3 separate regions of the Homo sapiens genome follow, and all the other regions are linked to region 3. Evidence: fine-mapped expression QTL. A gene starts in region 3. Each other region holds a variant in brackets. All regions are shown on one strand. Distances are from middle to middle. Region 1 overlaps CRYZ (crystallin zeta). Region 2 overlaps FPGT-TNNI3K (FPGT-TNNI3K readthrough). Region 3 holds the start of CRYZ (crystallin zeta).

Region 1 (4,208 bases), 28 kb after region 3:
GCAGATGGGATTTATGGTTACCCTGTAGATAACTACTTTTTCTATAGTTCTGGACAAGTTGACAAAAGTCACACATTTGTAAGAGACTCTTCATGGTATAACACTTAGATTCTGAAGTGTTTTTAATGCTTCTGAAAATTAAATCATACGGTTCACTACAAAAAGAAATTTGTTTTTCCTTTTCTTAGGAGGAATTTCAGCAATATGCAGCAGCCCTTCAAGCTGGAATGGAAATTGGCTGGTTGAAACCTGTGATAGGTTCTCAATATCCATTGGAGAAGGTGGCCGAGGCTCATGAAAATATCATTCATGGTAGTGGGGCTACTGGAAAAATGATTCTTCTCTTATGATGATTAATTCTTTCATGGATTTCCTATGTAATTAGAGGTACTGTCTTTCCCCCAGTTGTACTTACCCTATCTTTTCTTTAATTAACATTCGATTCCATGAGCTTCTTATGTGAAAAAATAAGATTTTTCTTTAGAGAGCAGAAGCAGAAGAGTAAAATTTATTGTATAGCTAGCAATATTTTTTTATGCCATCTGTCTCAAATCAAAGAGTCATCATAGTAGGAAATAACATGTTAGTTGTCATTTGGCATGAGTGTGCATTCCAGTAATTCTTAATTGATATTTGATTAATTCCATACCTTTGATTAAAACATGCTAGTTCAAAATAAGACTGCTCAGTTTCCAAGGGTTTTCAAGCCTACTTACCTTTATAAAGGTTCTCTAGTCTCTGATTAGCCATGACTGTATTGGACTTTGAACATTTTCTGAACTAAAAACCTCTATTCTAAACTAATCTCATTTGGATGTGTAAGTCTTTTGTAAAGGCAAGAATAAATAATATCCAGGACAATTTATTAGTTTTCTCAGTATTTTCCCAAATATTAGAATATTTACTTCATTATTGGTTGGCTGCCAATGACCCCATATGTTCTGTGAGAATAGTAGCTTTATCTTTGATATAATACATAGTCTCCAAATAGGTAATACTTCGCAATTGATTAGATTTTCAGAGTAGATTTAGAGTTATCTGTTTTTCTGGTGAGGGTCAAATATTTTTGTTAATTAAGCTCACAAATTTGATAAATTAAGAATTATCTGCATTTGTCTCGTAACATAATAATGTGTAATAAAGTCTATAGAAAATTAAAACCTGCTTTTCTAGTTTTTATATTATTTGCCTCTCATCACTTCTGCATAGCTCCTGACAGTTACTTCTTAACAGTGTTCTATGCTGGAAGCCTTTATCTAAACTAAATACAGGGATGACCTCTTAGCAATCTTGCCATCAATATTATATTCAAGAAAATAAAAGTTCGGTTATTTGTTGTTTTTGTTTTTCTTCACATAAGCACATACTTTTGTCTTGCTACATTATGTGATTGATTGTTTTGACCTGATTTTTTCTGTTGAATGACAATTTCTGGCTTGAATATGGAATCCTGCTTCAGGAATAAACAGAAAACACCGCTAATTTCTATAGTTGAAGGATATCATTGGCTTCTGGTTGTATGTGCCATGGCTGAAGTGTTTTTTGCTATTAGCATTTTCAAGTTTATCCACTGTTTCTTTTACAGGTTAACTACCCTGTAAAATTACTTAAAAAAAAAGTGTTAAGGCAATGTCATCAACATAGGCTGGCATTTTATGTGCATCCTAAAATGGAGGATTCCTTTCCATGTAAACAAGGTAAAAGAATAATTATTCTGTAAAAGTCAGTTTAATCTGTTTGTATATTTGCCTCATCTATAGAAGGAGCTAAAGCATACAGATGACTTAACACTTCAAAATACATTGATACAGTTTAATTAATTTTGAAGCCAAAACTAGCCAAACTGTGTGCATTAACTACCATATTTATGATGTAGCACTGGGTATGTTCTCTGCATAAATCTCTGTGGTTTTAGTCTTGTCCCAACTTTCAGCCAACTGCATTCACTACTTGGTTGGTGCCTGTGGCCTTAGGGCTACTACATAGTCTTCAGTGCCCATTCTTGATGAAAAGTAGAGAATAACCTGTATAATAAACAAACATTGTTTAACTCAGTCTTTTGGATTTCTGTTCCTGGTTGCTTTGACTTGTGTGACCTAGTCATGTAATGTATTAGAGACCAAATTGGTCAGCACCCTGAGCCCAAAAAGGTGAATCAACATACCAAAGGTCACATGACTAGGAGA[T/G]TCAAATTCAGCTGACTTTTTTGTGGGCTGTCGATATAAAACCATAAATTTAACTTTCCAGGCCTCTGGCTTTCCTTGCTCACTGTACCTCTGGCTTCTCTAACAGATTATTCTGTGCATCCATTAGTTCAACAAGTATTTATTGAGTACCTAGAGTCTGAGAAAGCACCCTGTTGGATTTTGAAAATACAGAGATATATAAGACAGAGTGCATATCCTTGAGCTTACAGTTGAGTAAGGATGAGACCCAAGTAAAACATTTTAGAATATAAGGGAGTGTCATACAGGGTTCTCCAGACAAACAAGCAATAAAATATATTAAGAGATGCATTTGAAAGAATTTGCTCATGCAATTATGGGGACTGGCAAGTTAAAATCTGTAGGGCAGGCCAGCAGGCTAGAAATACAACTAGTTTCTATTGTTGCAGTCTTGCAGAATTCTTTCTCTGTGAAACCTTAGTTTTTGTTCTTAAGGCTTTCAACTGATTGGATGAGGCCCACCTGCATTATTGAGGGACATCTCCTTAAAGTCAACTGATAATTTTGTATAAACATGTAAGTGGCACATGTTGACTATGTTGACACAAAACTAACCATCACAAGGGTGACAGACACAGAGGAAGGGCACTTAGTGTAGCTTGGGATTTGCAGTCACACATTTCATACATTTGATGCATTTGTTAGCTGTCTCCATCCATAGTAGCTTTAACCATAGAGGTAAAAAATAGGATGCTTCTGAAAGGGGGAAAAAAAAAACTAGCATTTTTTTAATGTCCGTAACTCGCCTGTTGAGACAAGAAATTGTATGTGTGCCAAGGGGCTTCCCCAATTTGTGGTATAAAGAGCTTTCTTTTTCTGCACGATTTCCAAGAACAGCAAAACCTGTCAGGTCACTTTGACCTACCTCTTTGCGCCTCCTTGACCGTATCTCGCAAACAGAAAAACACCTCAGCTCAATGCTCAATCATTTCTAATGCTTTCATTTTTTTAGTACAGTGCTTTAAAAAGTCATTTAAAAATTGTCATATGACAATTTTGCTAATCCATAGGGCTTATACTGTGGGAACTTCCTACATCCCAGGACAAGGCCTAGGAAATGTTATAGAAAGAAACGTAAGTTCACTTTGGTCTATGTCGACCCCTAAGTCATACATGGAGACACTCCATGTGTGTCGTTAAAAGTGAGTCTAATACTGATCCCAAAATTATGTGATATGGATGTTCATTAAATGTGCTAAATATAACTACAGATCGCAGTCCCTGATTTATTCATTCCCAACTTCATGTAAAAATACCCACAAAACTCCAGTAGTACAAGACAGTGAAGAGAAAACCATGTGACAAAATCCACTGGGAATTTCTAACATAAGTGTCAATCATTTGATTCGTTGAACCAAATTATCTACAGAGTAGGCAGGAAAAAGCCACAACTCAATCACTGCCTCTAACTTGGGACACAGGAGGTACACTGCCTGGAAAACCAAGTCCCCCGCCGCACACACACACACACACACACACACACACACACACTTTTTTTTTTTTTTTAACCAGAAATCATCTGAACTAGCTAGAATTGAGGTCTAGGTCCACCCCACAGTATCCTTCAGCTCCTTGCTTTCACATGCATTTTAGAGACTACAGGTTTCAGTTTTCAGTACAGCTATAGATTAAGGAGGAAGTGGAACTTTGCACCCTCAGATGTCACCACAGAGAAAATCTTGCAAATGGATTGAGAGTGGAATTGCTGGAGAAATACAAGACTTGTGCAAACAACATTTGTCTGACTCTAGCAAAGCCAGATAATGTAAAAATTGGAGCAGAAGATGCCCGTACCTTAGTCCAGCAGGCACTGGAATTGACGCAAAATATTGAAGAGGCTATCTCACTCCAGATATTGATCTGGAAGAAACTGACCTCTCTTATGGGCAGGGAGGAAGGCCACAAGTACATCTCTGGTATAGTTGTCAAGAGCATGGGTTCTGAAGGCAAAGAAACTGGATTTAAAGCCTAGCACTGTTATTG
Region 2 (4,247 bases), 270 kb after region 3:
CTCTAGGCTTTTTTCCCCCAATGGTCTAAAGAAAGTGATGGATAATTTGATACTACAAACTTATCTTTATTCATTTGGTTTCAGACTCAATAAATAGTACAGGGCATTTATAAGGAGTGAAGGAATATGCAAGGAGCAAGTAGTTTTGTTTGTCTGAAGTATAGGGTATGTACATGATATTATAAGAAGTAAAGATTGAAAGGCAGATTAAACAAGACTGTATAATGCCATAAATCCCAGGCTAAAGAGCTTATATTGTATGTAGTAAACATGGAATACCACTGAAATTTGCACTTCTCATAGCACCTGTATCACTTGAGCAAAGTAGATTTTTTTAAAGCTTAAATCCTATTACTGGTTACAAAGTTGTTGGGATTTTAATTTTTAATATTTATAAAGTAGTTATTATTTTTAAAACTCTGTTGGACACTTCACATCTTTATTTTAGCTAACAATACTCATTGATTGAAGTCTGTCGTGTTGCCTGCCTGCATGGATTTCTGAATATCGCTCATCTCAAAGTCTGCATCACTGTTTTGTGATTCTTAGAACTTCACTGTAGATTCCTGATTGCTAAATATTTCCTGTTCTGCAACTAATGATTTCTATACTCCCTTAGAAACCAAGCTTGTAGCTACTTTTACTGAATGCATTTTGTATCAGGCATCATGGTAGATAACTACATAAACTCCTTTAATCCTCCTAACCACCATGCAAAGTAGGTGTTGTTGTTGTTGTTATGTGTGGAGCTAGTTTTTAATTTATAAACATTTTACATATAACTAATGTTTGGTGCAGTCTTTTGTTTCAAAATCCATGCTCTCTTTAGCACACATTATAATAAATATACTCTGTAATCAACACATGATGCCCTGTCTATTCCTCACAAAAACTGCTCTGCATCAGTGAGAGGATAAAGTTCCAGGACATTGCTGCTGCCTGTCTTTTAGATTGTGGTATTGTAAGCATCTGTCTATATCTTAATGACTTTTGAGATATAAGCCACAACTACTACCTCTACTCTACCAAAATTTACTCCCATCAAATTCTGTTTATCCATACACTTTCAGTAGGCCTAGTGAAATTATATGCAATGTGATTTGATCAACACTTTATGGATTATTCTGAATGATTACCTAATTTTGCCAATTGTAAATTAATACTTCTTCCTTGTAGAAGTTTAAAAAATTAAGAGAATTAGAAGGAATAAATGTTATCATTTAGAAGAAACCATTGTTAAAATATTTCACATATTTCTTATACTTTACATCATTGACCTTATGTCAATATACAATTATGTAATTGTTTTTTCTAAATATTAAAGCATTAATCTAAGCAATGAAGCATTTTCTCATGTTATTAACACTTTATGTTAACATATTTTAATGACTCTGCATTTAGTTTTTAATCATTTCCGAATTTTAGGTTTTTCCAAATTTGGGTGTAAACACTTCAAAGAATATCTTTTCAACATGAGTTGCCAGATTTCATAGATTATTCATTTATGATATTTTGAGGAGAGAAGATGATGTGCCAAAGGCATAACTACTTTAAAGACTTCGGTACAACAATTATTCTAACAGTTGTACTAAATTTATACTCTCAACAGCATGTGTGTGAGGGTTATCAATACATCTGCACCAGAATTAGGTTTTCTCATTTTATAAAACATGTTACTAATTTCAGAGGTAAATATAGCCACTCATTTTTTTTGTTGTTTAGATTGTGTTCTTATCAAATATGTCACTACTTATTAAATGTGTCTTCTGTGTCACAAAAAATTAGGCATTTTGGAGTACTTTCACTGGTTACTCTTTTTTTTTTTTTTTTTCTCGAGACAGAGTCTCACTGTGTCACCCAGGCTGGAGTGCAGTGGCATGATCTGGGCTCACTGCAGCCTCTGCCTCCTGGGTTCAAGTGATTCTCCTGCCTCAGCCTCCCAAATAGCTGGGACTACAGGCACATGCCACCACCCCCAGCTAATTTTTTTGTATTTTTAGTAGAGATGGGATTTCACTGTGTTAGCAGGATGGTCTCGATCTCCTGACCTCGTGATCCTCCTGCCTTGGCCTCCCAAAGTGCTGGGATTACAGGCGTGAGGCACCATGCTGGGCCACTCTTGACTATTTTTAAATTATTTCTGGGATGAGGTAAATCAATAAGCAAACAAACTGGTGCTCAGCAATCACTGATCTTCTAACTCCACTTTGTTACCTTATGATCATTTGGATATTGTTG[AGCTGGT/T]GTAGCTGTAAGTACATAAGCCAGTATGGTGAGCACATTTAAAATAGTTGTGCATAGTCTAATGGGTGGGGAGGGACTAGTCATAAAATGAGTTAAACTCTGATGCAGGTGCCAACCATCCCCCTTTGAAATTCTTTTAGATTCTGGTATCAAAAATATAGAGTTACTTGTTTGCTTCTTGGCAGTGTGTCTGGAAAATCAGTTTAAGATGAATGATATTTAATTCTTCATTATTCAAAGTAGATTCTGCAAAGTCTTGGCATCTCCTCCCCTTTGCTTTAAGCACTCTTGGCAGTGATGCTACTCATTAGTGCCTCCACCAGAAAGTGGGCAATGTAACATGAGGGGGTCATGAAATTGAAATTTGTCACCTTGAGATTGTTTTGTCAGTCTTGCCTAAGCAGCCATGCTACACTAACATCTGGGAAATTTTCTGGTATTACAGATTCAGGAAGGAGATTGTCAGCCCATTAATCAAATTTTTACCTTGATTGCTACAAAAAATATGTTAGAGGATTTATGTAAATGTTGGTTTCTACTTTAAAGAATGAGACTTTGCCATTAAAGGAGAATAAAGCTAAATTTAAAAATATTAATAACTATTTATTGAGCAACTATTATTTCTCAACAGTCTCCTGAAATATTTATCAATAGTTTAGTAGAAATAATAACCTAGATCTAGAGTAGGAGTATCCAATAGAACTTTTTACACTGATAAAAATGTTCTTGTAATCCCAGCACTTTGGGAGGCCGAGGCGGCAGATCACGAGGTCAGGAGATTGAGACCATCCTGGCTAACACGGTGAAACCGCATCTCTACTAAAAACACAAAAAATTAGCTGGACGTGGTGGCTGGCGCCTGTAGTCCCAGCTACTCGAGGCAGGAAAATCACTTCAACCTGGGAGGCAGAGGTTGCAGTGAGTCGAGATCGTGCCACTGCACTCCAGCCTGGGCGACAGAGCAAGACTCCGTCTCAAAAAAAAAAAAAAGTTATATGTTGTTAAATATGATAGCATAAAGTTACAGAGCACTTAAAATGTGGCTAGTGTGACTGATAAATTGAGTTTTTAATTTGTTTAATTTTATTTAATATAAATTTAAATAGTCATGGTAAGTGGCTTTCATATTAAACAACATAATTCTAGAGCATAGCTTGCACTCTCATTATCCTGAAAAACAAGAGTTAAACCCAGTATTGTGAGTCAGCTGCAGAGTCTATATAACCATGGTGTCAATTTGTGGATTCAACTTCTCCCTTGTTTGTCGATACTTTATCAAGAAAAGAAAAGACATGAATGGAGATTGTGTATGTTGTTTCTCAAAAGTGATAGACCAGTGAAAAGCTACAGAACAGGCATTCAGCACAACATGTGATAACCTCATTCATGTATTCATTTGTCAAAATGTACTGACTATTTTATGTAAGTGATAATAAACCAAAAATAATCTGGTGTTATTTTTTTCAATGAAAATTGGTAAATGAATAAATAAGAAATATGTGAATGCCTAGTTTTTTTCACTGCATTTTATGGTTCAGTTGTTAATTCTAAAATGCGATTCCTTTTGCCTGGAATGTTCTCCCCTACCTCTTTTTCCTTCGTAACATCTACTGTCATTTAGCTCTTATCTTTGATTGACTTTTCCTGGGTACCCTTCCTATGTACTTCCATAACAACCTGTACTATCATAACATGTATTATACTTAATTGCCTCTTTATTTGTCTGCCTGTGCATATAGATCATAAATGCCTTGAGGTCAGGGACTGTGTCTTTTCACCATTGTATCTTCTGTGCCTAGCACAGTACTTGGCTATTAATAGGTATTCAAAAGGTATGCATTATTTCCCTTAGGATAATGGCCTCCAGCTACATCCATGTTGCTGCAATGGACATTATTTTGTTCTTTTTATGGCCATATAGTATTCTATGGTGTGTATGTACCACATTTTCTTTATCCAATCCTCTGTTGATGTGCACCTAAGTTGATTCCATGTCTTTGCTA
Region 3 (4,223 bases):
ATACTACGAATAAAATCAGTACACAGCCAACTTTTACAGTGCATGGGCCAGGCACAAAGCCAAATATTTCAAAAAAAATTATCCTATTTTCTCCACACAAAATCCCTATAAAGCAGATACTTTTTATTATCCTCAGTTCATAGAACAGGAAGGGGCAGAGTTGAGATAGCTTTCCTAAGGTCACATAGCCCGTGGTTTTTAATCTAAGCAGTATCACTCCCAAGCAGCCTTATCCTCAGGGGATATGTCCCAAGACCCCCTAGTGGATGCCTGAAACCTCAGATCAATTTCTTTTTCCTTCTTCACTTCACAATTTCACTGACAAGATTCATTCTTTCCGTAGATCTTAGCAACCTCAGCATATGCTGTTTTTTCTTTCCTTAAGTCTTTCCTTAAGAACTTTCACCTTTTCACTTCAAAAAAGCACTTTAAAACTTACTGTTGGCAGATCCAAATCGCCAGCATCATTACTCCCGTACTTTGGGGCCATTATTAAGTAAAATAAGAGTTACTTGAACACAAGCACTGTGATACCACCACAGTCGATCTGATAACCCAGAAGGCTACCAAGCAGCTAAAGGGCAGCAAGAATATATAGTGGAATATTCTGGACAAAGGGATGATTCACCTTCCATTCTGGAAGGAGCTGGTTGGCTCAAGATTTTATCACGCTACTCAGAACAGCATGCAATTTAAAACTTACTAATTGTTTATTTCTGGAATTTTCATTTAATATTTTCAGACTGCTGTTGACTGGGGTAACTGAACCTGCAAATAAGGAGGTATGGCTTGTACAGCTGCTTCTTGATTTATGATGGGGTTACATCCCAATAAATCCGTCATAAGTGGAAAATGTAAGTCAAAATGCATTTACTACCCCTGTAAACCCATCATAAAGTTAAAAAAAAAAGTCTAACCATCCTAAATTATATACGATCGTACTTTTCTCTGCGTAAAACTACTAGAGTTGTAATAATGGAGGGGCTCACTAGGAGGCAGTAAACTCCTTAACACTGGTGATGTTCAAGCATGCAGTAACAATGATTTGCCAGAGCTGTTGATGAGCGGATTCCGGCATTCAATACCTTAGCAAGCTACAAAGTCTTTAGATTCCCTTAGTATTCATATAATAAAATCAAATTTTCTAAACTTTGCCACACAAGATAGTTCCCAGGTCAGCAGTTTCAACATCATTTGGGCACTTGTTAGAAATGCACAGTATCAGGCCCTACCCTACACTTAAAGAATCGGGATCTGTATTTTAAAAGATGCTCAGCTGATTAATAGCCACGTTAAACTTTTAGAAGCACTGATCTAATCCCCTAAATTTCACATATAAAGAAACAGAGACCACCCCTCAGAGGAGCAAACACAGACATGCTGGATCCGGTCGTCACTGGATGGGAACAGGGCTCCTGAAGTTTCGCACTAGAAGGCAGGCGATGGACAGGCGCAAAGGGGCCTCACCCGGTCAAGGAGTAGGATGCGGCCAGCGCAGGAGCTGGTGGTGAAAAACTGATCTCGCATGTTCAGAAACTGCACAAGCTCTACCACATCCTCGTCAACACTGCCCTTCCGGCTGAGGTCCGCTTTGCTCAAACATTGCGCCTTCCATTTCCTGAACTCCGCGCTGCGATCCATGGGTGACGGACTCAGGGTCTGCGCTCGGCTCCTTCATGGTAGCCTCGTCTCTCCCTGGGGGCAGCCATATTGAAGCGAGCGGTGGCCGAAAAGGTCCAAACTTCCTCTTCGTTCTTAATTTGGGAAATTCTAGTGCCTTCGCCTAGGGGTGGAGAGAGGCGCACATCCTGGGTGGAGCGAGGCGCACATCCTGGGTGGAGCCTGCAAAAGTTGGAGAAGGTGTGGCAGTCCTCATTTCTGTGGAATCTGAAGAAGCCCACGCAGATTTTAATTCCCACTCTAGATTCTGGTAAGTGGTTTTAAAAACTCTCCTTAGTTGTTTAGACAGCGAATCTCCCCACTGCTCGTCCAAGTGGAACCGAGTTTGATTTTGGCTGCACCCCTTTCCTGCCCTCTGTCCTCCCAGAGAACTAGTGCGTAGAGCTCCAGACCGAAGCCATTCCCCTCCAGGGGCTGCAAGTTCCCATCCATAAATCAGGTAGGAAGTTTTGCCTTCTGGTCCTGGGCTCCTAGCCCTGGTCCTGCGTTTAGGCTCTGAGTTTAGGCTACCACACCATGAGGTGTCCGTTGGCACTACCCCTGCCCAGCCTCCGCCCCCCGCACTCCCTGTCCCCCAGCCCCACGCTGCACCCCCCCCCCCCCCCCCCGCCAGTCACCCGCTTGATTTTTCCCTGCAGCCAGTGCCTGGGTTTGGGGATTCCTGCAGCAGCGCCCAGCGGTCTGTCCAGGGCCCCTTCCCACAGCCCAGCTCTCAGCTGTAGAGGATTTGTCCTAGGTAGGGCCCCTTCCCACAGCCCAGCTGTAGGGGATTTCTTCTCCTAGGTAGGGCCCCTTCGCACAGCCCAGCTGTAGGGATTTGATTTCTTCTCCTAGGTAGGGCCCCTTCCCACAGCCCACCTGTCAGCTGTAGGGGATTTCTCCTAGGTAGGGCTCCTTCCCACAGCCCAGCTGTGGGGGATTTCTTCTCCTAGGTAGTGCCCCTTCGCACAGCCCAGCTGTAGGGGATTTGATTTCTTCTCCTAGGTAGGGCCCCTTCCCACAGCCCACCTGTCAGCTGTAGGGGATTTCTCCTAGGTAGGGCTCCTTCCCACAGCCCAGCTGTAGGGGATTTCTTCTCCTAGGTAGTGCCCCTTCGCACAGCCCAGCTGTAGGGGATTTGATTTCTTCTCCTAGGTAGGGCCCCTTCCCACAGCCCAGCTGTGGGGGATTTTTTGTCTTGGATTCCCACAATTACAGGTTTCCCGGAGCTTCCTCCAGCTTTGCCATCAGGATTGCAGTCTTTGAGAGAAATGTATAGTTTTATTGACCCTGTGACGCCCACCACCTAGAATAATCTTCAAAAGAAAATTACAAAACACCCTGTTAACACATCGTTGGATGTTTATACTGAGTTTCTAGAGGAGACTCAGTGACCAGGGAAGGTGTGTCAATGATTAAACCTAAAGGCTAAAGTTTGGAATGCTTGTCCGTAGCTAATGGAAATTGTTGTGCGAGTCCCTCTGAAGCCACTGTGATTACGTGTCTGGTTAGCGCAGCGAGTTCAGCAGCAAATCTCTCCAAGCTCTACTCCTCCAGCATTAGGGAACAGACTGCCCTGTTCCATACGATCATGGAACCTGGAGGAGTCCGAAATTATTAAACTCCTCCCCTCTTCTTACCCCGTCCTATCTCAAGTGAACAGAAGTGACCTGATAAGATCACACAGCCAGGAAGAGACTTTCTCTGACCACTTGTAATTCTTGCCTTTTTTACATTTCTGGGTTAATAATAAACCATATGCTTACATGAGTCATTGTGTATTAGCAGCAGAACAATTTGTAATGATTGATTTTTTTTCTAAGTTTTCAGTTTTTAAAATTCTTGCCAGAATTCTTATTTAATTTTACTTTTGCTCTTGTCTCATAATGTTCCTTTGCTCTGGCTTTGTGACTTGATCTGTTCATCCTATGTTAAAATATACTCCTAACATTTTCCCAATTCCTTTAATTTTCGTTTAAATCAAATGGATACAAGCATAGCCAGGAAAAAGATCACTGTTGGAAGAGGGATTTTAGATTTTCTATTTCCTAGATTTGTAAGGCATATTGGCAACCTTTCAGAGGTAAAATTAAACCAAAAATTAAACCAAGGGACTCTTAATTTTTAAAAGTTTATATTTGATAAACAGGAAGGCCTATTTGAAGTATAGTTTAATTAAAAAGCACAAGCAATGGAAAGGCCTGTCCTGTTCACAAGGATCCGATGCTAGGGAGTAATTTTTTTTTATACATTTTTAAAAATAGAATCATGTCCTTTGTATTTCTGCTGCATTCCCTGACTTAGTGGGCATTTGAGAAATTTCAAACTCTAAGCAGATGCCTTAGTCATAAAATATGCGATTCTACCTGCAGGTTAGTTTGATTTCACATTTTCTAGCTCAATCTGTCTCACTATCACTATTGTAAAGTTTATTTCTACGAAGTAAAGGGTCTTATATGCCAGCATCTCAAAGGGTGAGATGAAAAGGATGGTAAAGAAAAAAATCAGCTAACACCATTTAATTACAGGACTTGGGTTCTAGCTTTGCTTCTGTGTGACCCTGA

Evidence for each region. PIP is the estimated chance that this variant, and not a neighbour inherited with it, causes the effect. A credible set is the group of variants that fine-mapping cannot tell apart.
Region 1: its variant is the best candidate, but not a certain one, in a credible set for the expression of CRYZ in whole blood (INTERVAL, PIP 0.85).
Region 2: its variant is the best candidate, but not a certain one, in a credible set for the expression of CRYZ in uterus (GTEx, PIP 0.89).

The regions. Positions count from the first base shown.
Region 1 is chr1:74,702,438-74,706,645 of GRCh38, reverse strand. It overlaps CRYZ (crystallin zeta), which reads left to right. Exons shown (of 9, transcript NM_001889.4): 9 at 189-1,160. The coding sequence ends at 350. Among named protein-coding and RNA genes, the nearest start is that of CRYZ, 29 kb to the left of the region's middle. The variant T/G (reference allele first, on the strand shown) is at 2,187.
Region 2 is chr1:74,459,067-74,463,313 of GRCh38, reverse strand. The region is part of intron 22 of FPGT-TNNI3K (FPGT-TNNI3K readthrough); the gene reads right to left. The region is part of intron 20 of TNNI3K (TNNI3 interacting kinase); the gene reads right to left. Among named protein-coding and RNA genes, the nearest start is that of LRRC53, 51 kb to the left of the region's middle. The variant AGCTGGT/T (reference allele first, on the strand shown) is at 2,239.
Region 3 is chr1:74,730,663-74,734,885 of GRCh38, reverse strand. CRYZ (crystallin zeta) reads left to right here and starts at 1,836. Exons shown (of 9, transcript NM_001889.4): 1 at 1,836-1,930. It overlaps TYW3 (tRNA-yW synthesizing protein 3 homolog), which reads right to left and starts at 1,734. Exons shown (of 6, transcript NM_138467.3): 1 at 1,468-1,734. The coding sequence starts at 1,641. RefSeq lists enhancers at 1,120-1,219, 1,600-1,889, 1,444-2,154, 2,750-3,039.